Homo sapiens: one gene and its partners. The protein of the gene in region 1 purifies or fractionates together with the protein of each later gene. This does not show direct contact. Each region holds a gene or a part of one and is shown in the gene's direction. Other genes may lie near its edges.

The links.
Region 2: the proteins of CCDC14 (region 1) and KIAA1328 purify together in Homo sapiens (affinity purification with mass spectrometry; one large-scale study listed by BioGRID and IntAct). This does not show direct contact.
Region 3: the proteins of CCDC14 (region 1) and SCLT1 purify together in Homo sapiens (affinity purification with mass spectrometry; one large-scale study listed by BioGRID and IntAct). This does not show direct contact.
Region 4: the proteins of CCDC14 (region 1) and CEP72 purify together in Homo sapiens (affinity purification with mass spectrometry; one large-scale study listed by BioGRID and IntAct). This does not show direct contact.
Region 5: the proteins of CCDC14 (region 1) and CCP110 purify together in Homo sapiens (affinity purification with mass spectrometry; one large-scale study listed by BioGRID and IntAct). This does not show direct contact.
Region 6: the proteins of CCDC14 (region 1) and CCDC77 purify together in Homo sapiens (affinity purification with mass spectrometry; one large-scale study listed by BioGRID and IntAct). This does not show direct contact.
Region 7: the proteins of CCDC14 (region 1) and CCDC13 purify together in Homo sapiens (co-immunoprecipitation; one study listed by IntAct). This does not show direct contact.

Annotation. Positions count from the first base shown.
Region 1 is NC_000003.12:123,929,658-123,933,887, reverse strand, and holds part of CCDC14 (coiled-coil domain-containing protein 14), read left to right. Parts: intron 1-132; coding exon 133-215; intron 216-2,361; coding exon 2,362-2,580; intron 2,581-2,653; coding exon 2,654-2,786; intron 2,787-4,230. UniProt on the Homo sapiens protein: Negatively regulates centriole duplication. Negatively regulates CEP63 and CDK2 centrosomal localization.
Region 2 is NC_000018.10:37,216,770-37,220,999, forward strand, and holds part of KIAA1328 (protein hinderin), read left to right. Parts: intron 1-4,230. UniProt on the Homo sapiens protein: Competes with SMC1 for binding to SMC3. May affect the availability of SMC3 to engage in the formation of multimeric protein complexes.
Region 3 is NC_000004.12:129,083,132-129,087,361, reverse strand, and holds part of SCLT1 (sodium channel and clathrin linker 1), read left to right. Parts: intron 1-4,230. UniProt on the Homo sapiens protein: Adapter protein that links SCN10A to clathrin. Regulates SCN10A channel activity, possibly by promoting channel internalization.
Region 4 is NC_000005.10:650,009-654,452, forward strand, and holds the end of CEP72 (centrosomal protein of 72 kDa), read left to right. Parts: intron 1-2,979; coding exon 2,980-3,145; 3' UTR 3,146-3,545; downstream 3,546-4,444. UniProt on the Homo sapiens protein: Involved in the recruitment of key centrosomal proteins to the centrosome.
Region 5 is NC_000016.10:19,547,429-19,551,141, forward strand, and holds part of CCP110 (centriolar coiled-coil protein of 110 kDa), read left to right. Parts: intron 1-526; coding exon 527-586; intron 587-1,086; coding exon of another isoform or gene 1,087-1,172; intron 1,173-3,713.
Region 6 is NC_000012.12:411,196-415,425, forward strand, and holds part of CCDC77 (coiled-coil domain-containing protein 77), read left to right. Parts: intron 1-551; coding exon 552-783; intron 784-4,230.
Region 7 is NC_000003.12:42,762,676-42,766,905, reverse strand, and holds part of CCDC13 (coiled-coil domain-containing protein 13), read left to right. Parts: intron 1-4,230. UniProt on the Homo sapiens protein: Required for primary cilia formation and promotes the localization of the ciliopathy protein BBS4 to both centriolar satellites and cilia.

The DNA of each region.
Region 1 (4,230 bases):
GTCTTTTGGGGATGAGATGGACTTCTGCTGTCTTAGTGGGTTTATGTTTTATCTTTTTTGATAGGCTATCACATGTATACTATTAAATTGGCTTGGTATGCTTGCATTCATAGTTCTTCATTATTTCTTTAGGCAGTTGAGAATTTTGAACCAGCAACTCAGAGAACAACAGAAAACTCAAAAACCATCTGGTGCTGTGGATTGCAACCTTGAATGTAGGTAAAAGAACTTTAAGGATTGATAAATTATTTGTGGCTCCGGAAATGTTGATAAAGAATTGAGCTTTTGTAATTACTTTGAGGGGATAAATTTAAAATATTGTAGAAACATAAGAAAATAAAAGATGCTGTCACTTCCCAATAATATACACCTTTTTTTGTTTGTTTGTTTTGAAATACAGGAGTGTGTTTCCTTTTACATATCTTCTCTTCATATATAATTGATTTATTTAACACTTACTGAATACCTACTGTGTGCCAGGCACAAATAGAACTATATATGTACTTTTTTAAAAATGAGATCACACTGTACATACTTTTCCACAGCTTCTGTTTATTCACTTAACATATAATGGACACTTTTGTCTATCAAAATACATAATTATGCATCTTTCTCTTTAAGAATTACTTGGGTATTCTGCTTATCCAGGTCTACCATAATATGGTCCTTTGCTAATAGTACTTTCCCCTTTTTTCCCAGTGCAAACAACATTGCAGTGAAAATCTTTGTATATGTCTTTGTGCATATATGTCAGCTTTGTTTGTTTGTTTGTTTGTTTGTTTGTTTGTTTTGAGACGGCGTCACTCTGTGGCCCAGGCTGGAGTGCAGTGGTGCGATCGTGTCTCACTGCAACCTCTGCCTCCAAGGTTCAAGTGATTCTCTTCCCTCAGCCTCTCAAGTGTCTGGGATTATAGGCGCCTGCCACCACGCCTGTCTAATTTTTGTATTTTTATTAGAGACAGGGTTTCATCATGTTGGCCAGGCTGGTCTTGAACTCCTGACCTCAAGTGATCCACTCACCTCGGCCTCCCAAGGTGTGGGATTACAGACAATGAGCCACCACGCCTGGCCAGCATTTTTGTAGGATAGATTTATAGCAGTAGAATTGTTGAGCCAAAGGGTATATACAGTTGCAATTGTGACAGATATTGCCAAATTGTCCTTAATGATCACAGAGCTTAATAAAGAAACTATAATAGTACCAGAAGAAAATATAAGAATTTTTATTTTTTTATTTTTTTGGAGGGGAACTTTTCCTAAGCCTGACAAAGACTCAAATGCCACAGAGGAACAGATTGATAAAATATGTCCCCAGAAAACTTTTTCAGTTTCTACATAGCAAAATTATAAATACATTCAAAACATAAGCAAAATGGAGAAACAATACATGACATGATGAAGGCTTAATCTTCTTAATATATAAATATGTCTTATAAATCAATAAGAAAAAAATATGATTGCCCAACAGAATGAGCACTTTATAAAAGTGTTCAGTTTCACCAGAGTGATTCAGAAATTATCACTGTGTCTCCACTGTTAACCAAAGGTGAGGAAAGGGAGAGGGTAGGAGAGAGGAGGCCTAGAGGACAAGTGGGGAGATCAGTAGTTGCCACTTTAAATAGCTTCTCTTATTTATATTATCTGATCATTTATCTTATTGTTTCTTTGAGATCATTACTGTGTATAATTACTTGTTTGTTATCAGCTCTGTGAGAACAGGGGCCACGTCTGTGTTGTTCATCTCTGTATATTCAGATTCTAATACAATACCTCACACATAGGAAGCATTCGCTGAGCATGTATTTGCTCAACAAATGGTGCCATATACTTTTATCGCCATGAAAAAGAACGTGATAGATCTATGTGTTTGTATACAACAGTCTTATGGGAAAAAAAGGCAAAGTTAGAAATTGTGTATAGTATGTGTGTGTATGTAGTGTAATTAATACCATATGTAAAAGTGTTTTCACGAAAGATACCAAAATTAATACTGATTGTCTCTGGGGACAGAGAGGAGGAGTGGAAGGGAGATTCTTCATTGAGAATCATTGACATTCTGTGGTGTTTGAATTTTTTAACTTTGTACATGTATTATTCTTTTAAAAGGATTATGTATTCTTTCTTTTAAAAGGGTTTAAAAAATTAATGCTTAAAATGTCAACTGGAAAAGAAAGGTATGACTTCTGCCAATCATTTTTAAAAATATATGTAGTATTTATGTAGAACTGCTCATGCAATTAATCGTTAAACAAAATCAATAAATTTCAGGCCTTTTTTTTTTTTTTTTAAGAAACAGGTATTTTCCAAGTTTGTACTTTTTAGGTTTGGGAAACAACTATTTGATCCATTTTGTCTTAACAGTGTTTTCTCTTCAGTCATTGAATATGTCACTGCAAAATCAATTGGAGGAGTCACTAAAGAGCCAGGAATTACTGCAGAGTAAAAATGAAGAGCTGTTAAAAGTGATTGAAAATCAGAAAGATGAAAACAAAAAATTTAGTAGTATATTTAAAGACAAAGATCAAACTATACTTGAAAATAAACAGCAATATGATATTGAGATAACAAGAATAAAAATTGGTACGTATTTAGACAGTAGTTATGGTCACATCTTTTAAAAGGAATAAGGAAACTGAAACTTTTGTTGTTTTAGAATTGGAGGAAGCCCTAGTCAATGTGAAAAGCTCCCAGTTTAAGTTAGAAACTGCTGAAAAGGAAAACCAGATATTGGGGATAACATTACGTCAGCGTGATGCTGAGGTGACTCGACTAAGAGAATTAACCAGGTAAAATTGACTTCCTTTGAATAACTCATGCCTTTTTTATTTTTAGATGTTTTTATAAACTTCAAAATAATGTTAGACCTGTTTTCTCCCCCATATCTTTTTCTCTTATTTTGCCAATGTTTTTGCTAATTTCTAATGATGTTTTCTTCTGTTCCAATTAAATTAGTTTAGGAATTTCAAACCTGGCGAAATGTTTTTTTAAAACCATGTGATTCTGGGCAGGGGGTCCTGATGAGAAGCTGAAGACTTGTATAGCAACACCATTGAGCCCTCTGGTTCTGAAGCTAGAGAGATCTGACTGGAATCCCAGCTCTGCCACATATTAGCTGAGTAACTTTGAGCAAGCCATTTAACTTCTCTAAACCTCAGCTGTAAAGTAGGGACATGAATAGAGTTGTCATGGGAAACTAAGAAATCATTCATGAAAAGCACTTAGCATGGTAAGCCCTCATGCCATATGATCTTGGGTAAGTCAGCCTCTTTCAGCATTATTTCATCAGTTAAATGAGTGAGTTGGCAGTACCCCTTGAGATCACTTCATTCCCTAACAGTATTTTTCTAAAATAAAATTACCTCACTCAATTTTTCTATGATATTCACTTACAAAATTCAGTTTTCTTTTGAGATATTTGCTAAGAATTGGATTCTCAACTGCTTTTTAAAGTTCTAGGCGAGAAGTCAGTTATCTGAGGCCTAAAGATCTGCAGATCTGACTTTGTCTTCGAATGATCCTAGAAGTTCCAAATATAAAATAATCTTGAATATAAAATAATCTTCCTTGTGTTTCCAATGAACAGATCGATTTTGAATTTTCAACTTCCCCCCTCATTTTGAATGATAAACTTGTAGGGAAGCAAATGAAACAGTAATATATAACATTTAATTTATTAATTTAGTTTTATAAATGTATTTGAAATTAATGATCTGTTCACATGGAAATATTGCCCTTTTTCCACATTTATATTTCATAGGATATTTGCATTCAAACTTTTATTTAACAATGGCAAAAGCAAGACATTTTTTGTAATCATATAATTATAATTGATTAGGTTCTAGTCAGAGGTTCTGAATATTGGCTTATACCAGTCTTATTCAAAATAAAGTAATAGAATGTCCCTTCTTATGGAAGTCTTTGTAAGGTATCCCAAGGAATGTTTCCTTTTTTCTAAGGAATAATTTTGTGGTGAGAATTTTGTTAGTGTCAAGTATTTATACTAAGAGAAACCAGTAACAAAAGGCCACATATGGTGTGATTCCATTTATACGAAATGTCCAGAATAGGCAGATTCACAGAGACACAAAGTAGATTAGTAGTTGCCAGGGGCTGGAGGAACCCAGGGGTGTAGAATGGGAAATGACTGCTAATGGGTAGTTTCATTTAGGAGTGATGCAGATGTTCTGAAATTAGATAGTGGTGACAGTTCTCAACTCTATGAATATACTA
Region 2 (4,230 bases), on another chromosome or scaffold:
TCCTTGTACTCTCTGAGGACTTGCTTTATGAATCTGGGTGCTCCTGTATTGGGTGCATATATATTTAGGATAGTTAGCTCTTCCTGTTGAATTGATCCCTTTACCATTCTTTGATTGCCTTCTTTGTCTCTTTTTTTTTTTTTTTTTGTCTTTGTTGGTTTAAAGTCTGTTTTATCAGAGACTAGGATTGCAACCCCTGCTTTTTTTTTGTTTTTTTTTTGTTTGTTTTTTTTTTGCTTTCCATTTGCTTGGTAGATCTTCCTCCATCCCTTTATTTTGAGCCTGTGTGTGTCTCTGCACGTGAGATGAGTCTCCTGAATACAGCACACTGATGGGTCTTGATTCTTTATCCAATTTGCCAGTCTGTGTCTTTTAATTGGGGCATTTAGCCCATTTACATTTAAGGTTAATATTGTTATGTGTGAATTCAATCCTGTCATTATGATGTTAGCTGGTTATTTTGCTCGTAGTTGATGCAGTTTCCTCCTAGCATCGATGGTCTTTACAATTTGGCATGTTTTTGCGGTGGCTGGTACCGGTTGTTCCTTTCCATGTTTAGTGCTTCCTTCAGGAGCTCTTGTAAGGCAGGCCTGGTGGTGACAAAATCTCTCAGCATTTGCTTATCTATAAAGGATTTTATTTTGCCTTTACTAATGAAGCTTAGTTTGGCTGGATATGAAATTCTGGGTTGAAAATTCTTTTCTTTAAGAATGTTGAATATTGGCCCCCACTCTCTTCTGGCTTGTAGAGTTTCTGCCGAGAGATCAGCTGTTAGTCCAATGGGCTTCCCTTTGTGGGTAACCTGACCTTTCTCTCTGGCTGCCCTTAACATTTTTTGCTTCATTTCAACCTTGGTGAATCTGACAATTATGTGTCTTGGGGTTGCTCTTCTCAAGGAGTATCTTTGTGGTGTTCTCTGTATTTCCTGAATTTGAATGTTGGCCTGCCTTGCTAGATTGGGGAAATTCACCTGCATAATATCCTGAAGAGTGTTTTCCAGCTTGGTTCCATTCTCCCTGTCACTTTCAGGTACACCAATCAAACGTAGATTTGGTCTTTTCACATAGTCTCATATTTCTTGGAGGCTTTGTTCGTTTCTTTTTACTCTTTTTTCTCTAAACTTCTTGCTTCATTTCATTTGTTATAGCCACAGGAGTTAGAGAAAATGCCACACTTTGAGACAAATTAAGAGTCCTTTATTTAAGCCGGCGGCCAAAGAGATGGCTAATGCTCAAAATTCTCTTGGCCCCGATGAAGGGGCTTAACTTTTATACCTAGGTTTAGGAAGGGGAGGGGGACTTAAATGCAATAACTCTACAGAAGTAAAAACATGCAAGAATCAAAAGAAGCAAATGGTTACAGAGAAATGAACAATTTAAAAGACAAATGGTTACAAAAAGAGCAAGGGTACCAGGTGCAAGGCTCTAAATCCTTCATTATAGTTAGATATAAATGCTATGCCAGACAGGAACTCAAGGCTTTGTGTTGTTATCTCTTTGAGCAAAACCCTGGGAACTTCATACATTGTTTGCTCCAGTATCTTACCAGTTAATTGGGCTCCTTTGAAATGCTGAGGATCTGCTTACACAGGTTAACTCCTTAAGGAAGGGGGTTGGGTAAGGAGCCCTTAATGTCTTGTAAATCAAGAGGTCAAATGGAGTTTGTCCGGCTTTCCCAGCCAGGGAGAGTGTATTCATATGGGAAACATGGCTGGCAATTAAGGAGACAAAAAAAGGAAAATTTAAAGTAGTGAGCTAGAGTAAAAAACAAGGTTAGGCGTTACACATTCATTTGATCTTCAGTCACTGATACCCTTTCTTCCACTCGATGGAATCAGCTTCTGAAGCTTATGCATGCGTCACGTAGTTCTCCTGCCATGGTTTTCAGCTCCATCAGGTCATTTAAGGTCTTCTCTACACTGTTTATTCTAGTTAGCCATTCGTCTAATCTTTTTTCAAGGTTTTTAGCTTCCTTGAGATGGGTTCATACATCCTCCTTTAGCTTGGAGAATTTTGTTATTTCCAACCTTCTGAAGCCTACTTCTGTCAACTTGTCAAAGTTATTCTCTGTCCAGCTTTGTTCCATTGCTGGCGAGGAGCTGTGATCCTTTGGAGAAGAGGCACTCTGGTTTTTAGAATTGTCAGCTTTTCTGCTCTGGTTTCTCCCCATCTTTGTGGTTTTATCTACCTTTGATCTCTGATGATGGTGACCTACAGATGGGGTTTTGGTGTTGATGTCCTTTTTGTTGATGTTGATGCTATTCCTTTCTGTTTGTTAGTTTTCCTTCTAACAGTCAGGTGTCTCAGCTGCAGGTCTGTTAGAGTTTGCTGGAGGTCCACTCCAGACCCTGTTTGCCTGGGTGTCACCAGCAGATGGCTGCAGAACCGCAAATATTGCAGAACTGCAATATTGCTGCCTGATCCTTCCTCTGGAAGCTTCATCTCAAGGGGCACCCAGCTGTATGAGGTGTCAGTCGGCCCCTACTGGGAGGTGTCTCCCAGTTAGGCTACACAGGGGTCAGGGACCCACTTGAGGCAGTCTGTCCGTTCTCAGAGGTCAAACACCATGCTGGGAAAACCACTGCTCTCTTCAGAGCTGTCAGGGATGTTTAAGTCTGCAGAAGTTCCTGCTGCCTTCTGTTCAGCTCTGCCCTTCCCCCAGAGGTGGAGTCTACAGAGGCAGGCAGGCCTCGTTGACCTGCGGTGGGCTCCACCCAGTTTGAGCCTCCTGGCTGCTTTGTTTACCTACTGAAGCCTCAGCAATGGCAGATGCCCCTACCCCTGCCAGGCTGCTGTCTCGCGGGTCGATCTCAGACTGCTGCACTAACAGTGAGCAAGCCTCCGTGGGCATGGGACCTACTGAGCCAGGTGTGGTTTATAATCTTCTGGTGTGCCATTTGCTAAGACTGTTGGAAAAGCGCAGTGTTTGGGTGGCAGTGTCCCTATTTTCCAGGTACTGCCTGTCATGGCTTCCCTTGGCTAGGAAAGGGAAGTCCCCCGACCCCTTGCGCTTCCTGGGTGAGGTGATGCCCCACCTTGCTTCGGCTTGCCCTCTGTGGGCTGCACCCACTGTCCATCCAGTCCCAATGAGATGAACCAGGTACCTCAGCTGGAAATGCAGAAATCACCCATCTTCTTTGTCGATCACACTGGGAGCTGCAGACTGGTGCTGTTCCTATTCAGCCATCTTGGAACTGTATCCCCCAATTTTTTCTAATTTTTAATTTTGAGGAGGATCTTTCTGTTGATGCAACTGACAGTGGAGCTGCTAAGAGTATTTTGTAGGCTGTGCCAACATTTGCATAGATTTCTAATAAAGTATTTCCAAATATGAATTTTAGTTTATATAGAGGTGATTATTCTTGGGGATCAGATTTTCTAAAAAGATTTAACTCTTCATACACATTAGTTTCATACATGTTGGAATTTAATTTTAAATACAAATCTCTATGATGTCATTTTAATGTTTTCTCTAGCATGTTCTGTAACATATAAAGATCATATAAGAAACCAAAAATCACTTAATGATTTGTCTATAATTCACAGTGCTTGTTTATGCTTTCTATAGCAGCATCTTCAGTTACAAAGAAAAATTAAATTTAAAAATTGTATTCCTCATTAATAATTGGTTCATTAGAAATTGCATATGAGAATAGTGGGTTTTTTCCTATCAAATGCAACAATCTTTAATTTTTATTTCCAAACCTGTGGATGTTCGCTTTCCAGTGTTGTAGCAGTTTTTAAAACCAGAGATTCTAAACTCTTTGAAGGCTTCTAATATATCTCTGATATGCTTCATTGTAATGTCCACGTGTATGTTTTTATTTTCTAATAATTTACTGGCATTTATACTTAATGCTAGCAGTTCCTATCCCAGTTCTCAGGCCAGAAAGATGACATTTTTGCCACAGGGATGGGCTTGGGAAACAGACAACCCAGCCTCTCACCACTGCTGCTTCTGCCATTGTCACCACCATTAATTTGGAGCTAGGTTCTGGCCCCAGCTATCCCCTTAGGGCCCTATGTGGTACTCCAAACTGTTTTTGTTTGTTTGGTTGGTTGGTTGGTTGGTTTTTTGTTTGTTTGTTTGCTCTATTGCCCAGGCTGGAGTGCAGTGGCACGATCTCAGCTCACTGCAGCCTCCACTTTCCAGGTTCAAGCGATTCTCCTGCCTCAGCCTCCTGAGTAGCTGGGGCTACAGGCACATGCCACCATGCCCGCCTAATTTTTG
Region 3 (4,230 bases), on another chromosome or scaffold:
TGAATATTTGATAGAATTCACCAGTGAAGCCAACTGGACCTGAAGTTTTCTTTGTGGAAAGGTTTTAAAATACAAACTTAATTTCTTTAATAAATAAAGAGCTATTCAGTACTCTGTATTGTACTCGAGAAGAACCTCTGCAGGTCTCACATTCCCTAGGGTTCTTTCTCTGTGCAGTCTTCTATCCTTTGTCCTGCCAATTCTAGTTCACTTAATCTCCACTACTTCTCAGCTCCACCTCTTAATAAGAGTCCAGTGGTCTCCACTTGCATTTCCTCCCCCCGTGTCATGGCCCTGGAAAGTCTCTTAAGTCATTAAGGTGGGGCAATCATAGGGCTTACCTCATTTGTTTCTTGTCTCTGATTATCATTGTCTGATGTCTAGTGTACTATAAGGTATTGATGATTTTTTTGCTTGCTTTTTCATGTGTGTCAGGCAGAAAAGTGGTCCATGTTATTTCTTCTTGAGTATAAGCAGAAGTCCTATTCAAGTTGCCCTACTTTTTGATGTCTTAAACTCAAGTATCTTACTCCTACTATAACTGTTCTTTGACCTCCTCATCCTTTGAGCCCTTCATTTTCTTTACCACCTTGACTGCTTCCCAGTTTGTTTTTACTGGTGTCTTTTACAGGCTGTAACCATTGCCCATTAGTCCTTCTGCGCTTGTCAGTAATCTTAATATGATTATACCCCTGCTTTTCTATAGCTGATGCCCAGTAACACCTCATGCCATGATTGGTTGGTTTGCCTTTACAGTTCTCATACCAAATGCTGTTTAGTACCTATAGATAGCTGAACCCTCTGGATAAGTGCCTTCACAAAGTCAAGGTTAACAGAGCTAGTAAGTGACTGAGCTGGGATTTGAACCCAGGCAGTCTAGTTTCAGTGTCTCTTTTCTTAACTGCTACACAAAAAGCATACTTGCAAGAAAGGAAAACTGTAAACCTGTTTCACTTATGCATGTTGGAACTAAAATCCAAAATAAAATATTAGTAAATTGAAACTAACAATGAATGTGTGTGTGTATATATATATATATATATATATACATACATACACCAGCATCTTCAGGTATCCAGGAAACGCAAATTAAACAAGCCAGATAAGTACTTGTAGAATGAAGGAAATAATAACATTTAAGTTACAGTAAAATTTTCTCCAGATTATAGTCAATCTATGAAGATTGAAAGTGTTTCCCTCATTATTAATACATAATTTACTTCTTATCCTATTTTAATTACTGAGGACACAGATCTAGTTTTTTTCTTAATTGAAAACTCTGTCAGGGAAAAAAAAAGAGGTTTGTATTGTGATTAATTTTTTGTTTTAAGTTTTTCTTTTTTTAAAATTTATCTTTTAAGTTCAGGGGTACATGTGCAGGTTTGTTATATAGGTAAACTTGTGTCATGGGCATTTGTTGTGCAGATTATTTTGTCACCCAGGTATTAAGCCTAATACCCATTAGTTGCTTGTCCTGATCCTCTCCCTCCTCCCACCCTTCACCCTCCAATAGGCCACCGTGTGTGTTGGTCCCCTCCATGTGTTCTCATCATTTACCTCCCACTTATAATTGAGAACATGCCGTACTTGGTTTTCTGTTCCTGCATTAGTTTGCTAAGGATAATGGTCTCCAGCTCCATCCATGTTCCTGCAAAGGAGATGATCTCGTTCTTCTTTATGGCTGCATAGTATTCCATGGTATACATGTACCACATTTTCTTTAGCCAGACCACCATTGATAGGCATTAAGGTTGATTTCATGTCTTTACTCTTGTGGATAGTGTTGCAATGGACATACATGCTCATGTGTCTTTGTGGTAGAATGATTTATATTCCTTTGGGTGTATACTCAGTAATGGGATTAAAGGGTCGAATGGTATTTCTGTCTTTAGGTGTTTGAGGAATCGCCACACTGTCTTCCACAATGGTTGAACTAATTTACATTCCCACCAAAATGTATAAATGTTCCTTTTTCTCCACAACTTCACCAGCATCTGTTATTTTTTGACTTTTTAATAATAGCCATTCTAACTGGTGTGAGGTAGTATCTCACTGTGGTTTTGATTTACATTTCTCTAATGATCAGTGATGTTGAGCTTTTTTTTGTATGCTTGCTGACCGCATATATGTCTTCTTTTAAAAGGTGTCTGTTCATGAGCTTTGCCCACTTTTTAATGGGATTTTTTTCTTGTAAATTTGTTCAAGTTCCTTATAGATGCTGACTATTAGACCTTTGTCAGATACACAGTTTGCAGAAATTTTCTCCCACTTTGCAGCATGTCTGTTCACTCTGTGGATAGTTTCCTTTGCTGTGCCAAAGCTCCTTATTTTAATTAGTTTCCATTTGTAATTTTTGCTTTTGTTGCAATTGCTTTTGGCATTTTTGTCATGAAACCTTTGCCTACTCCTGTGTCCAGATGGTGTTGCTTAGGTTGTCTTCCGGGGTTTTTATAGTTTGGGGTTTTACATTTAAGTCTTTAATTCGTCTTGAGTTATTATTTATATATTGTGTAAGCAAGGAGTCCAGTTTCAGTCTTTTTTCATATGGCTTGCCGGTTATCCGAGCACCATTTAAAGTAGGGAATTCTTTCCTCATTGCTTGTTTTTGTCAGGTTTGTTGAAGATCAGATAGTTGTAGGTATGTGGCCTTAATTCTGGGTTCACTATTATGTTCCATTGGCCTATGTGTCTGTTTTTTGCACCAGTACCATGCTGTTTTGGTTACTGTGGCCCTGTAGTGTAGTTCTAAGTTAGGAAACATGATGCCTCCAGGTGTGTTCTTTTTGCTTAGGATTGCTTTGGCTATTCAGTCTCTTTTTTGGTTTCATATGAATTTTAAAGTTTTTTCCAGAGAAACGTTTCATAGTTTTCTGTGTAGAGGTCTTAAACATCTTCTGTTGTATTTATTACTGGGCATTTATTTTTTTTTATGGTACTATAAATAGCATCTTTTACTGTTTTCTAACTTTATGCTGCCAGTATCTAGAAATATAATTAATTTTTATATATTGACCTTGTATCCAACAACTTTGTTAATCTTCATGATTGATTTTTAAGTATGTATCTGTGGTTTTTTTGGATTAATCACATATGCACTCATAACTATGAATAATGACAGTTGTTTCATCTTTTCCAGCCTTTGTGTCTTTTAGGTCTTTTACTTGCTTTACTGCATTAACTTAGACCTCCAATAGAGTGTTGAGTAAATGTCATAAGAATTTATCCTTATGTGATTCCTAATTCAAGGGAAAGTTTTCAACATTTTTACTCATGAGTATGATGTTTGTTGTGTATTTTACGTAAGCATTCATTATAATAACAGTGTTCCCTTCTAGTCTTACTTTGATAAGGCTTTATCATGAATATATCTTGAATTTCATCAGGTGCTTTTTTAAAATAACTTTTGAGATGATCATATTTCTTATCATTTTTTGTGAGTTTATTTTCAATTTCTTTATTTTCTGGGCTTATCTTTATTTACTCCACTTGGCTTTCTTTGGATTTAATTTGGTGCTGTTTTTCTAACTTCTTGGAATGCATTTGTAACTTCAGACTTTTTCTCTAGTATATGCAATTAAAGCTACAGATTTCTCTTTAAGCAAGTTTGGAGGTATCACATTTTCACTATTGTTCACTTCAAAATACTTTAAAATTTATTTTGTAATTCCTCCTGAGATCTTTCTTCTTTTTTTTTTCTGAGATAGAGTCTTGCTCTGTTGCCCAGGCTGGAGCGTAGTGCAATCATAGCTCACTGTAGCCTCAAAGTAGCCTCAAACTCCTAGGCTCCAGTGATTCTCCTACTTTGGCCTCCCAAAGCAGTGAGATTATAGGCATGAGCTACCATGCCTGGCCAAAAGTGATTTCTGAACTTCCAAACATATAGAGGATTTTCCTTTTTTTTTTTTTTTTTTGGTTCTTGATACTAACTTAATAGTGCTATTGTAAGATAACATACTGTCTTTGGTTTCAGTCCTTTGAACATTATTGAGACTTTCTTTTACCAGTGAATAATCAACATTAAATGTTCTGTGTGATCTTGAAAAGAACGTGTGATTGCAAATTTGTTGGGTACTATGTTGTATGTATGTTACTTTTCTTGATGTAAATAAAAGTATGGTCTTGTTATTTCTTTTTTTTCTTTTTCTTTTCTTCTTATTCTTTTTTTTTTTTTTTTTCAGAGTCTCACTCTGTCACCCAGGCTGGGGTGCAGTGGTGCGATCTTGGCTCACT
Region 4 (4,444 bases), on another chromosome or scaffold:
CTGTGAGGTGTGACTGTGAGGTGTGACTGTGAGGCGTGGACTGTGAGGTGTGACTGTGAGGTGTGACTGTGAGGCGTGACTGTGAGGTGTGGACTGTGAGGTGTGACTGTGAGGCGTGGACTGTGAGGTGTGACTGTGAGGCGTGGACTGTGAGGTGTGACTGAGGTGTGACTGAGGTGTGACTGTGAGGCGTGGACTGTGAGGTGTGACTGTGAGGCGTGGACTGTGAGGCGTGGACTGTGAGGTGTGACTGTGAGGCGTGGACTGTGAGGTGTGACTGTGAGGTGTGACTGTGAGGTGTGACTGTGAGGCGTGGACTGTGAGGTGTGACTGTGAGGCGTGGACTGTGAGGTGTGACTGTGAGGCGTGGACTGTGAGGTGTGACTGTGAGGTGTGACTGTGGGTGTGAGGTGTGACTGTGAGGCGTGGACTGAGGTGTGACTGTGAGGCGTGGACTGTGAGGTGTGACTGTGAGGTGTGGACTGTGAGGTGTGACTGTGAGGTGTGACTGTGAGGCGTGGACTGTGAGGTGTGACTGTGAGGCGTGGACTGTGAGGTGTGACTGTGAGGTGTGACTGTGGGTGTGAGGTGTGACTGTGAGGCGTGGACTGAGGTGTGACTGTGAGGCGTGGACTGTGAGGTGTGACTGTGAGGCGTGGACTGTGAGGTGTGACTGTGAGGTGTGACTGTGAGGCGTGGACTGTGAGGCGTGGACTGTGAGGCGTGGACTGTGAGGGGTGACTGTGAGGCGTGGACTGTGAGGTGTGACTGTGAGGTGTGACTGTGAGGCGTGGACTGTGAGGTGTGACTGTGAGGTGTGACTGTGAGGCGTGGACTGTGAGGCGTGGACTGTGAGGCGTGGACTGTGAGGCGTGGACTGTGAGGCGTGGACTGTGAGGTGTGGACTGTGAGGTGTGACTGTGAGGTGTGACTGTGAGGCGTGGACTGTGAGGCGTGGACTGTGAGGCGTGGACTGTGAGGTGTGACTGTGAGGCGTGGACTGTGAGGTGTGACTGTGAGGCGTGGACTGTGAGGTGTGACTGTGAGGTGTGGACTGTGAGGTGTGACTGTGAGGCGTGGACTGTGAGGCGTGGACTGTGAGGTGTGACTGTGAGGCGTGGACTGTGAGGTGTGACTGAGGCGTGGACTGTGAGGTGTGACTGTGAGGTGTTACTGTGAGGCGTGGACTGTGAGGTGTGACTGTGAGGCGTGGACTGTGAGGTGTGACTGAGGCGTGGACTGTGAGGTGTGACTGTGAGGCGTGGACTGTGAGGTGTGACTGTGAGGTGTGACTGTGAGGTGTGACTGTGAGGCGTGGACTGTGAGGTGTGACTGTGAGGTGTGACTGAGGCATGGACTGTGAGTTGTGAATGTGAGGTGTGGACTGAGAGTTGTGGACTGTGAGATATGACCTGTGTGCAGTGTGACCAGGGGAGAGAGGTGCATGAGAGATGGTCGGGCACGGCGGGGCAACCTGGTTCCCCTGGGCGGTAGTCCGGCAGCTGTGCTTCCCCCTTCACTGCAGTGCGTGTTCAGTTGGAAACACGGAGATTTCACCTTTACTCCCTGGCTATAGGGGGATGGTGAGAAGGGGGCTGGGTGTGAGGGGATCTTCAAGGCAGAATCTTAGTTTGTCTTTTAAGAATTGTGTGCCGGGACGTGGTTGGAGGCTGGGTGCAGAAAGGAAGAGGCGAGCTGCTGGAGGAGGCAAGGACAGGTCGCTCTGGGCAGTTTTGTGGGTGCTGCTGTGTGAACCCCTGTTGCTGTGGCCTCAGCAGGGAAGGCTGGTCTGTGGTCAGTTCCTCCCCCTCCCCTCCCCCTTTCATTCCCTCTTCCTTTCCCCCGACCTCCCATTCCCGCTCCCTCCCCCACTCCTCAGGCTGAGGCTGCCACACTTACCTGGGTTCGACCACAGTCTGGTCATAGGCGTAGCCAGGCTCTGCCCCTTACAGGATAAAGGCCACAGACCCCCATGGGGCCCATCACAGGTGTAAGTTACAGAGGGGAAGGGTCCTGAAAGATGAGACTGGGCCAAGAGGAGATGCAGCGGAGCAGAAGGAAGGGGACTGTGGCGGCCGCGGGTGCAGTGCCCAGTCGTGGGCAGGGCCATGTGACTCCCTGGAACCTGGTGGGCCTGTCTGTGGCAGGTCAAGGTACAGTTGGGGGTCATTCTCCTTGAGCACTGTGGCCTGGATGTGGACAAGGCAGGGTGCACAGCTCCCAAACATGGTGGCATTGGGCTTCTGCCCCCAGGATTCATGCTGGCTTCATCCAGTCCTGGCCTGCGGCTCCTTTGCTGTCCAAGTGAACAGGGCCTGGGCCTGCACAGTGGCCCTGTCAGTGGGGTGCCCATCTCTGTGGCTAATGTGACCGAGGTCAGTGGGCCCTGCCTTGTCTAATACTTGTAATGCCCTGAGTGTCCTCAGGTCATCGCTGACTGGGTGATTAGGGCAATTTGGAGGTGACAAAGTGGGTAAAATGTAATAGCACTTTACTTCTAAAATAAAAATGGTCAACAGCATTAAAGACTAGGACTCTTCTATTGCACTATTATGATGTCAAAATTATTATATTTGACTGGGAATTAGAACTATTTCAGTCCCCGTATATTTTCTAGAATTAGAACATTGTTTTGCTAGCCATGAAGTTTATCATCTTCTCATAAAACCATGCGTAGCTGGAATAGCCAAGGCGCCATTCAGTCACTCATTAGCCTGTTCAGCTCATTCATTCATTCCATAGGTGCTGAGCCGCACCTCCAAGGCTGCTCCCAGGGGTCAGGACAGTGGTTGGGAAGGAGGAGGCAGGTGGGCGGTAGCCAGTGGGACACAGAAGGTGATGGGGCCACAGAGATAGGTCTGTGTGCAGGGCCAGGGCACCTTCGTGCCCATGCAGGGAGGTGGGCAGGCCCAGCAGGTGAGGGCCACACCGCTGGAGAGGACGGAAGTGCCAAGCAGCCGCTTCCCTGTTGTTCTGCAGCTCCCTGGTCAGCACCAATGAACACCTGCTGCAGGAGCTGAGCCAGGTGCGGGCGCAGCACAGAGCCGAGGTGGAGCAGATGCACTGGAGCTACCAGGAGCTCAAGAAGACCATGGCCCTGTTTCCACACAGCAGCGCCAGCCATGGAGGCTGCCAGGCCTGCTGACTCCTGCCGAGAAGCTGGGCCACCCCTTAAGCTTCCTGGTAAAGTTACATTGTCTGCACCTTTGTACTTCTTTATTGAGTGTACTGGCTGGCAAGAGTTCTCTCTTCTGTTGGTAATTATTTAGGATTTTTGGAATGTATTCAGGACCTGTAGCTTGGTTTTCTAAAGCACCTCGTAAAATGATATGATTACTCCAAGCCCTCTGCATGTTTTCAGACAGAACACATTGACATATTTTGAGACAAACTGACTATTAATCTTGTATCCAGTATCCTGAGATGAAGTAAATGCAGTGTTCTACTGCCTGATGTGAAAGAGAGCTATGTATGATAATTAAAGAAAATAATTTTCTGTGTAACAAGCAATCTTTATTTAATAAACAAATACATTGTTCTGAAAAGTTAACTTTTTCAGTGGCTGTATACAAATTATAACTGAGTTTGTCATTGAGTTTTTTATAGAACAAGCTGTGCACCATGATAGGTGAGTGGGAATAATTAAGTTCAAAGACTTAACACAAGTGACACTTATAGATGTGGGGGAAAAAACCTTAAAAATATTGTCTTATGATATTAACATATCACAGCGGAAACATCTACCCAAGCCCTGGCTCGCTCTCTTGTTTGCAGTGTAGTTCTGAAAATTATGTCATAATAGGACACAAAACTAGATTTTTAGTTTGGAAACTTCATATCTTATGTCATACTTGCTGTGATTGGTAAGACAAGGTCATTTTTTAAATGACGTTCAACTGATTTGGGAAGAATGAGCAGGCCTAAGAAGAAAATGCTCTGTGCTAGCTCTGTGTGTGTGTGTGCCCTTGCTGTGTGTGTGTGTGCCCTTGCTGTGTGTGTGTGCTGTGTGTGCGCTAGTGTGCGCTTGCTGTGTGTGTGTGCTAGCTGTGTGTGTGTGCTGTGTGTGCGCCTAGTGTGTGTGTGCTAGCTGTGTGTGTGCTAGCTGTGTGTGTGTGCTGTGTGTGCTAGCTGTGTGCGCTTGCTGTGTGTGCTCTGTGCGCGTGCACTTGCTCTGTGTACTAGCTGTGTGTGCATGCTAGCTGTGTGTGCGCTTGCTGTGTGTGTGCTAGCTGTGTGTGCATGCTTGCTGTGTGTGTGTGCTTGTGCGCTTGCTGTGTGTGTGTGCAGTTGCTGTGTGCTAGCTGTGTGTACGCTTGTGTGTGCGCTGTGTGTGCGCGCACGCACCCTGTGTGTGTGCTGTGTGTGCACGCGTTGTGTATGTGCACTTGCTATGTGTGTGCTTGTGTGCTAGCTGTGTGTGTCTGCTAGCTGTGTGTGTGTGTGC
Region 5 (3,713 bases), on another chromosome or scaffold:
AAGCTGGGCACAGTGGCATGCTCCTATGGTCCCAGGTACTCGGGAGGCTGAGGCAGGAGGATAGCTTAAGCCCAGAAATTCAAACCAGTATGGGTAACATAGTAAGACCCATCTCAAAAAAATAAATAAATAAAAAATAAAGCTAAAAAGCGAACTTTAATATTTCTGACCTGTTTTTTACTCCTGTAAAATGAGAGTGATACTTTCTTCTCTCACTGGTTTGAAGGGAAAAGTTAGCTTTTGTAAAGCATATGTATAAGAAAATTATCTAAAAGCACAAGGGTTAGTCTATATGTTGGACATTTCTTTGCTGATAAAAACCTAAGGTTTGGACTCTTAGTGAGCAAAATACAAGTATCATATTAATATGCTTTAGTCGATTTGCTCTGATTTGTGGTAATATATAGGCCATATTATTGCATAGTTGACCTTTACCTTACAGTCATCATCTTTCATCCGTTGAAAGAAAATGGGAAAAAATGGAATTTAACCTATTAAATTAATTTTTCATTTAATTTGTCAACAGAGTCCTTCAGCCAAACCAAGGACAGAATGCACCTGTTCATAGGCTACTTAGTAGACAAGGGTAAGAATGCCACACACGGGTATTGAAAACTACGGAAACCAAGATTAGATTTGAGAGGGAAAAATAAATCTAGTGTTCTTTATGTAAAGGATAATGGTTTTTCAATGGGATTTTTTTTCTTTATAGCATTGGGAAAGATATTTTAAAGTTTTGTCTTCAAATGTAACCCTCTTGGTGTACTGTTGTGTATTCTAATTACTGTCTTAAGTTGGGATGTTTTTACTTTTCATTTCATACCATTTTACTCATAAAGTATTTTAAATATCCATATAGTAAATTCAGCATCACCGAAGTGATTCTCCAACAGAGTATGACTCGTGCTTATAGTCTCCTGCTGAAGCCAGAGTTTAGCTTTCCTTACTGTGCGCATGCATGAGACTTCAGTTCTTTTCAAGCTTATTTGTGCTTTGGACAGTTGATGCAATGTGATTGCTTTCTTTGAATTTTGAACATTTAGACCTTAATGCCAGTGACTTATTAATTTTTTTATATTCAATTAGAACCCCTAAGACATCAGTGAAGGGGGTTGTGCAAAATAGACAGAAGCCTTCACAGAGCAGAGTGCCTAACAGAGTGCCTGTTTCAGGTTTGTAGAAAATAAATTCCTGAAGCCCATTCAATAGAAGGAAGTGCACAAGCTGCCCCATAACTCAGGCCATAGAAGTGGAATAGATTGTCTTTCCTTGCCACCATAATTTTGGCATATTCACAGTCATCTTATTAGTGTTCTTTGGTCTTAGCATTGTATGGCAGTCAGGAAGTCTTAGTAAAAGTGTGATTCCAGTCTTCATTTCTATAATATTTCTGTGGAAAGCACCTTGTATTTTTCATTCTGAAAAAATTGTAGAATTTGCCATGCTTAATTCAGAAAACCTTTTTATTTAATGAATAAAAGATAACGATCATCTCTGGTGCTAAGTCTGTGCATTGTCTGTTCAGCTTGGGGAAGTGTATCTGCACATAAGGGGATAAACTTTCTCCCTCAGACTATAAGATCACATGTGAATATGCCAGTGGGAGGAGGGCTTCATATTTTGCTCAGTCCAAAGCTTGAGCTAAATCTCTCCTTATGTTCATTATTTGAGGATTAAGAGCTAAACTAAAAACTGTATTTTAAAATTCTGTTTATGGTGGCAAGAAGACAAACTCATTCTTGAGCAAATTCAAAGCTCTTAACCAAATGCTTTAATATTTTTTAGGTATCTTTGTTAAGACACTTTGATTAAGCTCACTTAAAAATTATGTGATCCATTTAAAAATACTTTCCAAATGTTGTGCTTTAACTATACTGCTTTCTAGACATTTACAACAAACCTAAATTAATCACCAGGCATTGAAGATTAAACCTTTAATCAATTTTAATCTTTCCATTAATATACAATTAGGCAAATTTTAGAGCTTTATTACTAAGTGATTTCCTTCAAATTAGGAGGGAACAAGCTATTGGTCGTAACTTTGAAATGATGGCTGACCTTTTGTATGTATGTAGTGAAGGTAATTCATAGTGTCACACATATATAGGATAATTTAAAAGATCATCTTTGGAAATCATTGTGAGTGACAGTTAATGGAATTGTCTTAAAGGATTACATAGCTGAAGATACTGTTTACTCCAGAGGCAGTCAGAATAAGCTAGTTTGAAAGATAACCATTTGAAAGGACTCAGACCAAACACCAAACCTGTGGAATTTTAAGACATTTTCTGTTTTTCTCATGTTAGTATTCTATATTGCACTGAAACTTAGCAAGTTGGAAAATCATTGAGGAATTAGTATTGTTTTGCCTGATACCAATTTGCCACAGTGACTACTCTCCATGTTCTTTTCTCATGCATTTCATCTCCACTATTTGTCACTTGTGAACTTATAAGCAAAATAGCAAGTACTGTTTTTATTCAGCAATACTCAACAGTATAAAGGATGTATAGTCAGTCACTGAAGTTAGTAACATACAATGAAGTTCATTATTTTGAACTATTGAGGTTAAATTGCATTGCAACATACTTATTAATACAAATGAACTTAACCCTTGAATTAATATGTATCTAAACAAGTACAAAAGTCTGTTGCTGTTGTTTTCTAAAGATTTACTTATACATGAGTGCATATTTAGACAATTGAAAGAAACTAAATAATTGTGTTCTTTTTTTTTTTTTGAGACAGAGTCTTGTTCTGTTGCCCAGGCTGGAGTGCATTGGTGTGATCTTGGCTCACTGCAATCTCCACCTCCTGGGTTCAAGCCATTCTTCTGCCTGAGCCTCCCAAGTAGCTGGAATTACAGGCGCGTGCCACCATGCCCAGCTAATTTATTGTATTTTTAGTAGAGATGGGGTTTTACCATATTGGCCAGGCTAGTCTCGAACGCCTGACCTCAGGTGATCCGCCCACCTCGGCTTCCCAGAGCTCTGGGATTACAGGTGTAAGCCACCGCGTCCAGCCAGAATTGTATTCTTTTATATAAACTGAGAGTTTGGGATATTGGCTGGTTAAAATGCTAACTATGAATCTGAACACAGGAACTCACTGTCGCTCTTGAAAAGATTACTCTTTCCTGCTTAGAGTTTTAATGGTCTGAATTATGTTTTAAACAAATTTGAAATTATGTTCTGATTTGCTCTAAATGGAGGCAAATCCTTTGTTAAGCAATTTATAGAAAACTAACTTTTCTTATGATAGAATATCATACTCTTAGACTGAAGTAGAATTCTAAAATGTTAAAGTATGCTGCAAAGCATTTAGTTATTTATAGTTTTACAAACCTAAATTGCAATCTCTGATGTTATCGTAAGTGATCTTTGACTTACGGTTTTAAAACACATTTCTTCATTTGATGTTTTGTGCTTGACTAGAGTTTATATAGTGAAATTCAGAAACCACTAATCAAAGCAGAGTAGGAGGTGGTCATGCAAAATGGTTAAGTAAAATAACACATCAGGTGGACTTGGGTTATCAGAGTTCTTCCTTCTAGCTCTGTTCCTTAGGCAACTGCTCTCCTATGCCTCAGTTTTATTATCCTTAAAATGGTCATAACAATTTCTACCTCAGGATGATTCATATAAGGATTAAATATGATAATGTATATTGCCTAGCTCAGTGTTTGTTCCAGAGTAAAAACTCATTAAATGGTA
Region 6 (4,230 bases), on another chromosome or scaffold:
ATAGAGTCTCGCTCTGTCGCCAGGCTGGAGTGCAATGGCATGATCTCGACTCACTGCAACCTCTGCCTCCCAGGTTCAAGCGATTCTCCTGCCTCAGCCTCCCGAGTAGCTGGAACTACAGGCGTGCACTGCCACACCCATCTCATTTTTTATTTTTGTATTTTGGTAGAGACGGGGTTTCACCATGTTGCCCAGGCTGGTCTCGAACTCCTGAGCTCAGGCAATCTGCCTGCTTTGGCCTCCCAAAGTGCTAGGATTACAGGTGTGAGCCACCACGCCCGGCCAAGATTTTTTTTTTTTTAAATAAAGACAGGGTTTCACTATATTGCCCAGGCTGGTCTTGAACCCCTGAGCTCAAGTGATTCTCCCACCTTGGCCTCCAAAAGTGCTGGGATTACAGGCATGAGCCACTATGCCTGTCCAAACTTCCAAATTTATGAGCACCTTAATTATAAGCACTTTGGGAACACAAAACCCCCTTTTATTTAGGAAGTTATAACTCATAAACTTTCGCAGAGTGTGATGAATATATCATTTCTAATTTCACGTAGGCGAACAGTTGTCTCCAAACGTGGTGTTGCCGTCAGTGGTCCCACCAAGAGGAGGGGAATGGCAGATTCACTGGAGTCAACCCCCTTGCCTTCCCCCGAAGATCGTCTGGCCAAACTCCATCCTTCTAAGGAGCTCCTGGAATATTATCAAAAGAAGATGGCTGAGTGTGAGGCAGAAAATGAGGACTTGCTGAAGAAACTGGAACTCTACAAAGAAGCTTGTGAAGGACAGGTAAAGAAACGATGCTGCTGCTTTAGAACTCTGATGGAGTCTTCATAAATTAGAGATGCCCTACAAGTGCCAGTTTATATCAGAAGCAGATGTTTTATAAAAATACTCCTTTTTTATTCCCCAGCCCAGCTATTGCCCCTTCAGGCCCTCCTTGGATCATAACCCCCAAAACTGCCCTTCCTCTCAAATCTTAAATTCTGACATCTCCATATCTCTTATACCTAGTTCTTTCATCTCCTTGTACCTGAGTAGTCCTTAACTTCTTTGTTACCTCCATAGCTTCCTGACTTTTCAGTTTTCTGAGTGCTGTATATAGCTCTGATATCAAGTCCTTCAAACCTAAACCCCATGATGCTTTACTTGAGTAGTAACTGCAGTGCCTGCAAATGACCCCTTGCTCAATTATTCTTCTGCTCCACCTGCATAGCAAAAACTGAGCTGTGGCATCATCCAGTTCTCTGCCACGTGTTCTCCTATAGCAGGATTTCTTAACCTCGGCATTATTGACATTTTGGCCTGGATGATTCTTTGTTGTGAGGGGTTGTCCTGTGCGTGATGGGATGTTTAGCAGGATCCCTGGCCTCTACCCGCTGGATGCCAGTAACACAACACCCCCAGCTGTGACAATCAAGAATCTCTCCAGACATTGCCAGATGTTTCTGGAATGGGTGTATGGATGTGCAGAGTCACTCCTGATTGAGAACACTGTTGTAGAAAGGTCACAAATCAGTACAGAATGAATCGATGGTAAACAAATTCAGCTGTACCCTCAACCATTATACAGCAGTCTTCTCACCTATCCTTACTGGCTTTCCTCTCCTTCCACATCTGTGCCATACCCTCACCTCTAGCCTGCAACCCCTTCTTAGCCCTCCTCTCTCAACATCTTTTCTGCCATCTGCACACCGTTACTCCATCCGTATCTATCTCCTTCTTCCTTCCTTTGTTTTTTCTCTGGTTGCTTTTCTTTTTTTTTTTGAGACGGAGTCTCGCTCTGTCGCCCAGGCTGGAGTGCAGTGGCGCGATCTCAGCTCACCACAAGCTCCGCCTCCCGGGTTCATGCCATTCTCCTGCCTCAGCCTCCCGAGTAGCTGGGACTGCAGGCGCCCGCAACCATGCCTGGCTAATTTTTTGTACTTTTAGTAGAGACGGGGTTTCACCGTGTTAGCCAGGATGGTCTCAATCTCCTGACCTCGTGATCTGCCCACCTCGGCCTCCCAAAGTGCTGGGATTACAGGAGTGAGCAACCGTGCCCGGCCTGTTTTTTTGTTTTTTTGAGACAGCGTCTTACTCTGTCGCCCAGGCTGGAGTGCAGTGGCGCGATCTCAGCTCACTGCAAGCTCCGCCTCCCGGGTTCACGCCATTCTCCTGCCTCAGCCTCCCGAGTAGCTGGGACTACTGGTGCCTGCCACCATGCCCAGCTAATTTTTTTGTATTTTTTTAGTAGAGACAGGGTTTCACCGTGTTAGCCAGGATGGTCTCGATCGCCTGACCTCGTGATCCACCCGCCTCGGCCTCCTAAAGTGCTGGGATTTCAGGCATGAGCCACTGCGCCCGGCCTCTCTAGCTACTCTTTTTATATAAATGGCTCTTTCTTTTCCCAGTCACACTTCCAGAATCTTTTGACTTTCCCATTCACTGAATGGGATTTTTTTTTTTTTTTTTTTGAGACGGAGTCTCGCTCTGTCGCCCAGGCTGGAGTGCAGTGACGCAACCTCAGCTCACTGCAAGCTCTGCCTCCTGGGTTCAAGCAATTCTCCTGCCTCAGCCTCCCGAGTAGCTGGGATTACAGGTGCACGCCACCACACCTGGCTAATTTTTTGTATTTTAGTAGAGGCAGGGTTTCACTGTGTTGCCCAGGCTGGTCTCAAACACCTGAGTTCAGGCAACCTGCCTGCCTCGGCCTTCCAAAGTGCTGGGATTACAGGCGTGAGCCACCGCGCCCAGCTGGGAAATGTCTTGACTGCAGTTTCATCTCGGTCCTTGCCATGCCACTAAAACCGTGCCGTCTGCGGTCTCCAAATACCTGTTTACCAAACTTTTCTCTTTTTGCCCTTTGCAGTGTCTGTCACTTTTGACCTCTCTTTTTCTAAAATTTTCTTCCTTTCTTGATTTCCTTTTTTTTTTTTTTGAGACGGAGTCTCACCCTGTCTGCCAGGCTGGAGTGCAATGGCACAATCTCGGCTCACTGCAACCCCTGTCTCCCGGGTTCAAACGATTCTCCTACCTCAGCCTCCCAAATAGCTGGGATTATAGGTGCCCACCACCACACCTAACTAATTTTTGTATTTTTAGTAGAGGTGGGTTTTCACCATGTTGGCCAAGCTCATCTCAAACTCCTGACCTTGTGATCCGCTTGCCTTGGCCTCCTGAAGTGCTGGGATTACAGGCGTGAGCCTGGCCTCCTTTCTTGATTTCTGTGTCATTTTTCTTTCACAATTTCTATCTAACCTCTCTGATCAGCTCATCTCAGTGTCCATTAACAACTCTCTTTCCTTACTCTTAAATTTCAGAGTTCTTCCAGATTCTACTATAAATGACCTTGTTTTATCCTTGTATTACACTTCTGCATACGGGATGATGACTGTTAAATAACTAACCCTGACTCACTTTTCTCCTGAGGCTCCTTTCTCTACCCTCCCTTCCCCACCCGCACATGTACTGCCACCATTTCGCCTTCCTCCGTTTCTCATGCCTTAACTTTTTCTTTATTCTTTGTCTTGGCAAATGGCATCATTGCCTACGGTTCTTCCAGTCCCCCTAAACCGAATCATTTGGCAAGTCCTGTTGATTCTGCTTCCTAAATATTACTTAATCCATTCCCACACCCACCTCACTTTGGCCACGATGCTCACACAGACCCTTGAGTTGCGTCTAAACTGTGACGGTGTCCTCCTTGCCAGTACCTGCCTCTGGCCTCTTACATCCCCAGTTGGCCTCACACTTTTCACTCTAGCAGTACTGAAATATTTGTACTTGTCCAAATTTAATAGGCTTTTGTTTTTTGGAGGTTTACTTGTCATTTTTATCACATTATGTATGTATACAATGAATTACAGGGTAATTCATTCCATTTGGGCTCCTGGATAGCTTCAGGATGGGAGCTGGTTGCCAGATGGCAGTGATGCAGCATCTCTGAATACATTTACTGGGACACAGTGTGAGCCACCGTGCCCAGCCTAATTGTTTTTGTAGATTCTACAAAAAAAGTGTTTCCAACCTTTTGAGTTCCACTGTGGACTTGTATGCTCTCCCTTTCTCTGAATCAGTTGTTAATATTTATTAACATAATTATTAACATAATATTATGTTAATATAATCAACATAATATTATGTTAATATAATCAACATAATATTATGTTAATATAATCAACATAATATTATGTTAATATAATCAACATAATATTATGTTAATATAATCAACATAATATGTTGATATTATTAACA
Region 7 (4,230 bases), about 81 Mb from region 1:
GAAGTTCCCCTCTATTCCTAGTTTACTTAGAGCTTTTATCATGAATGAGCATTGGATTTTGTCAAATGCTTTTTCTGTGTCTACTAATATGATTGTGTGACTTTTCTCCTTTAGCCTGTTGATGTGATAGGTTTATGTTAATTGATTTTCTAATGTTAAACCAGCCTTGCATACCTAAAGTAACTCCTATTTGGTCATGTGGTATAATTTTTCAAATACATCATTGGATTCAATTTGCTAATATTCTTGGAGAGGAAGTTTGTTTGTTTGGTTGGTTGGTTGTTTTTTTTTTTTTTTCTTTGAGACAGGATCTCGCTCTTTTCCCCGGTCTGGAGTGCAGTGGTGCAATCATGGCTCACTGCAGTGAGAGGAAGATCTGAGAATTACCTCCCCTCCTTTCACTTGACTGGCCCATCAAACTCTTTCTTTGCTGCAAAACTCGCTGTTTTTAGTGCATTGGTTTTCTGAACAGCAGGCAAGATGAACCCGTCAGGCTGTTACTTGCTTCCAGCTGTCTCTTCTTCCTCTTCCCTCTCCTTCCCTCTCTCCCACCTCCTCACTCTACACCTTCTCCTCATGCTGCTTTGTTCATACTCTAGGTCTCAACTACCTGAGGCTCCAGCTCAGACTTCCCTTCTGAACCCCAGACCCACCCAGCATCTCAGCCAGCCAGCTGCCCACCCAGCATCTCAAAGTCCACCACCTTGTCTGCAGCGTGGAAAACTGCTCCTCTGTCAGGGCCTGCTGTCTCCCCAGTCACTCAAACCCAAACCGCCTAGGTTTCTCCCCTCTCCTTCTCTGCATAGTTGCCTTCAGTCCCTTCCATTTGGCAGCAATTCCTCTTCCCCCTCCTCCATCTCCACTGCTACAGTTTTGATTTAGGCCCACATGGCTTCCCAGAGACCCCCTCCTAGCTAGGCCCTTTGCCTCCAGCTCTGCAGAAGGCAAAGCTGATCCTGTGTGCACCCTCTGAACATCTCCAGCGCCTCAGGATAAAGTCCAGGCTCCTTAGCTGGGCAGATCAGACCCTTCTTCTGGTGCCTCCCCAAATGTGCCCTGCCCTCTGGCCATTCTGAACCTTTCATAGTTCCCCACACTCATCACATTCTCTGCACATGCTGTTCTGGCAGGAGAGCCCGTTGCCCCCCACTCAGGCACCGTCCCTTCCCCACCCAGGTGAATTTCTTCTGCATTCAGCTTCAAATTGACTGAGATGCCTGTCTCTCCTGCAGCTTCTCTCTCCCCAGACAGCCTCTCAGAGTGCTTAACACCTCTCATTCTCAAACCAGCTGAACGTTAGGCTCACCTGGGAAGCTTTAAAAATACAAAAATGTTAGCTGGGCGTAGTGGTGCATGCCTGTAGTCCCAGCTACTCGGGAGGCTGAGGCAGGAGAATCGCTTGAACCCAGGAGATGGAGGTTGCTGTGAGCCGAGATCGTGCCATTGCACTCCAGCCTGGGCAACGAGAGTGAAACTCCATCTCAAAAAAATAAAAATAAAAATAGACACCCTGGCCACAGCCCAGATAATTAATTTCAAATCTCCACTGGCCTCATGAATAGCACAGATTAGATACTAATACTCTGGGGGCCGGTCTGGACCACAGGTGTCCTCTCAGTGCAGGCATTACTGTCTATCCCAGAGGCTCCGTTGGGCCAAGAGCACCACTTTTCATACAGTGATAATGATAATTATTTCCATGCATTCTTCCACTTAATCTCACAAACTCCCTGTGAAGTTCGTAAGTATCAGAGTCCCATTTTACAAATGGGAAACGAAAGCAAAGAGGTTAAGTAATTTGCCTGGGGCACAGTGTACATTCAATGAGTACCAGTTCCTCAGTGACTTCAAGTGCAAATTGGGAGTAGAAAAGGAGAAAAGCTTTACAAGTTACTGTGTTCATTCATTCAGTGACAATTCTACAAATGACAGTTGAAGGCCTGTTCTGGGCAAGATGTTGAGATTTAGCAAATGAATAAGGTATTAGGACCCCTGCCCTTAAGAGGTCTCTTTGTAAAGGGAAGTAATGTAAATAAAATAATAGATAATTATAATACACTGAGGTTAAGTTTAGTGATCAAGGGGTGCCCTAGGGATTCTGGGAGTCCACAGAGTGCCCTGAGGGGAATCCTAGAGGCTAACTGGGAGTTAGTGGGAAGGTAAAGGGCTGGGATGGGGAGGCCTGGGAGGAAGGCCTCCCAGGTAGAGGAGTGGCTGAAGCCAGCCTCTGAGATGCCACTGGGCTTAATCCACAGCAGGAGCCACAAACCCAAAACATCTGCTGTGGCTGATGGGAAATAAAAGTGAATCCAGCAGGTTTAAGAGAAAGAACAACATTTATGTGCAGTGATAATGGGCAGCTGATGTGCCAGCTGCAGCATCTGGAGGTGGCAGGGACAGTGGTTTAATGGAAAGAACCTATTATGCACCAAAGGAACTCTCTGCATAGCAGCTGCTGTCCGTGTGGGACGATGGGCCCAGCATTGCCAGATCTGTAAACTTTTATAAAAGAAGCTGGTGTAAACTAAACATAAAATTCAGAGGCCCCCCATCCATCTGAATGGACTTCCTTCTCAGCCAGGGCACTCCAAAGTTAACCTGAAAGACCAGTTCAGGCCTTGATGGGAAGCAAGGGTTGGACACGCCTCATTATACCCTCCTCCCTTTTGGAATTCAGGAAAAGTTGACCAACATTTAACATCAACACAGACCTTAAGTCTGATAAGAAACATTTACAATCTATTCTCTCTGAAGCCTGCTACCTGGAGGCTTCATTTGCATGATCAAAACTTTTATCTCTTTTATTCTAACCCAGATATTCCTTTCTATTTATAGTAACTCTTTTAACCAATTACCAATCAGAAAAATTTTAAATCTACTTATCACCTGGAAGCTCCCCCCTCCCAACCTTGGAGTTGTCCTGCTTTTCTGGACCAAATCGGTATATATCTTAAATGTATTTGATTGATGTCTCAGGTCTGCCTGAAATGTATAAAACCAAGCTGTGCCCTGACCACCTTGGGCACGTGGTCTCAGGATCTCCTGAGGGCTGTGTCACAGGCCATGATCACTCACATTTGGCTCAGAATAAATCTCTTCAGACTGGGTGCAGTGGCTCACACCTGTGATCCCAGCACTTTGGGAGGCTGAGGTGGGTGGATCACTTGAGATCAGGAGTTCAAGACCAGCCTGGCCAACATGGTGAAACCATGTCTCTACAAAAACATACAAAAATTATCTGGGTGTGGTGGTGCATGCCTGTAGTCCCAGCAACTCAGAAGGCTGAGGCAGGAGAATTGCTTGAGCCCAGGAGGCAGAGGTTGCAGTGAGCCAAGATTGTGCCACTGCGCTCCAGCCTGGGTGACAGAGCGAGACTTCATCTAAAAAAAAAAAAAAAAAAAAGTACATCTCTTCAAATATTTTACAGAGTTTGACTGTTTTTGTTGACACTGGAAATCTGATATTGAAACTACAATTCTTTGAATGTTGGCAACAAATTCAAATCCTAACATAGTGTTCTGTAAGAGCCAAACAAAAATGTCTGTGGGATGTGTTAAACTAACTGTAGCCTAAAGCTGCCTTCTTATATATTCTAAGTTCAGCCTAAAGGTTTCTCTGTACGTAGTAAACTGTAACCTGACTAGGAATTTAAACAGACTGCAATCTACTCTTGTACCAGTCACAGAGTTTCAGCCAATCACAGGCAGCCAGCTATTCAAATTGTATTCAAAAAAGGCAAACAGCCAGCTGTAATCAGTCTAGCTGTTTCTGTACCTCACTTGTGCTTTCTGTTCATCACTTTCCTTTTTCTGTTCATAAATCTTTTTCGACTAGGTGGCAGCCCTGGAGTCACTCTGAATCTGTTCTGGTTCTGGGGGCTGCTAGATTTGTGAATCATTCTTTGCTCAGTTGAATTCTGTTAAATTTGATTTGTTTAAAGTTTTTCTTTTTTTATTTTGGAGACAGGGTCTGACTGTCACCCAGGTTAGAGTGCAGTGGCGCGATCACAGCTCATTGTAGTCTCAACCTCCTGGGCTCAAGCTGTGCTTCCACCTTGGCCTTCCAAAGTGCTGGGATTACAGGTGTGAGCCATCATGCCTGGCCTAACGTTTATCTTTTAACAAAGGATATAGCCTTTGGGCCAGCTATTATACTCACATGTATTGTTTATTACAATGAAAGAATACGGGTCAAAATCAGCAAAGAGACACATAGGGCAGAGTCCAGGAG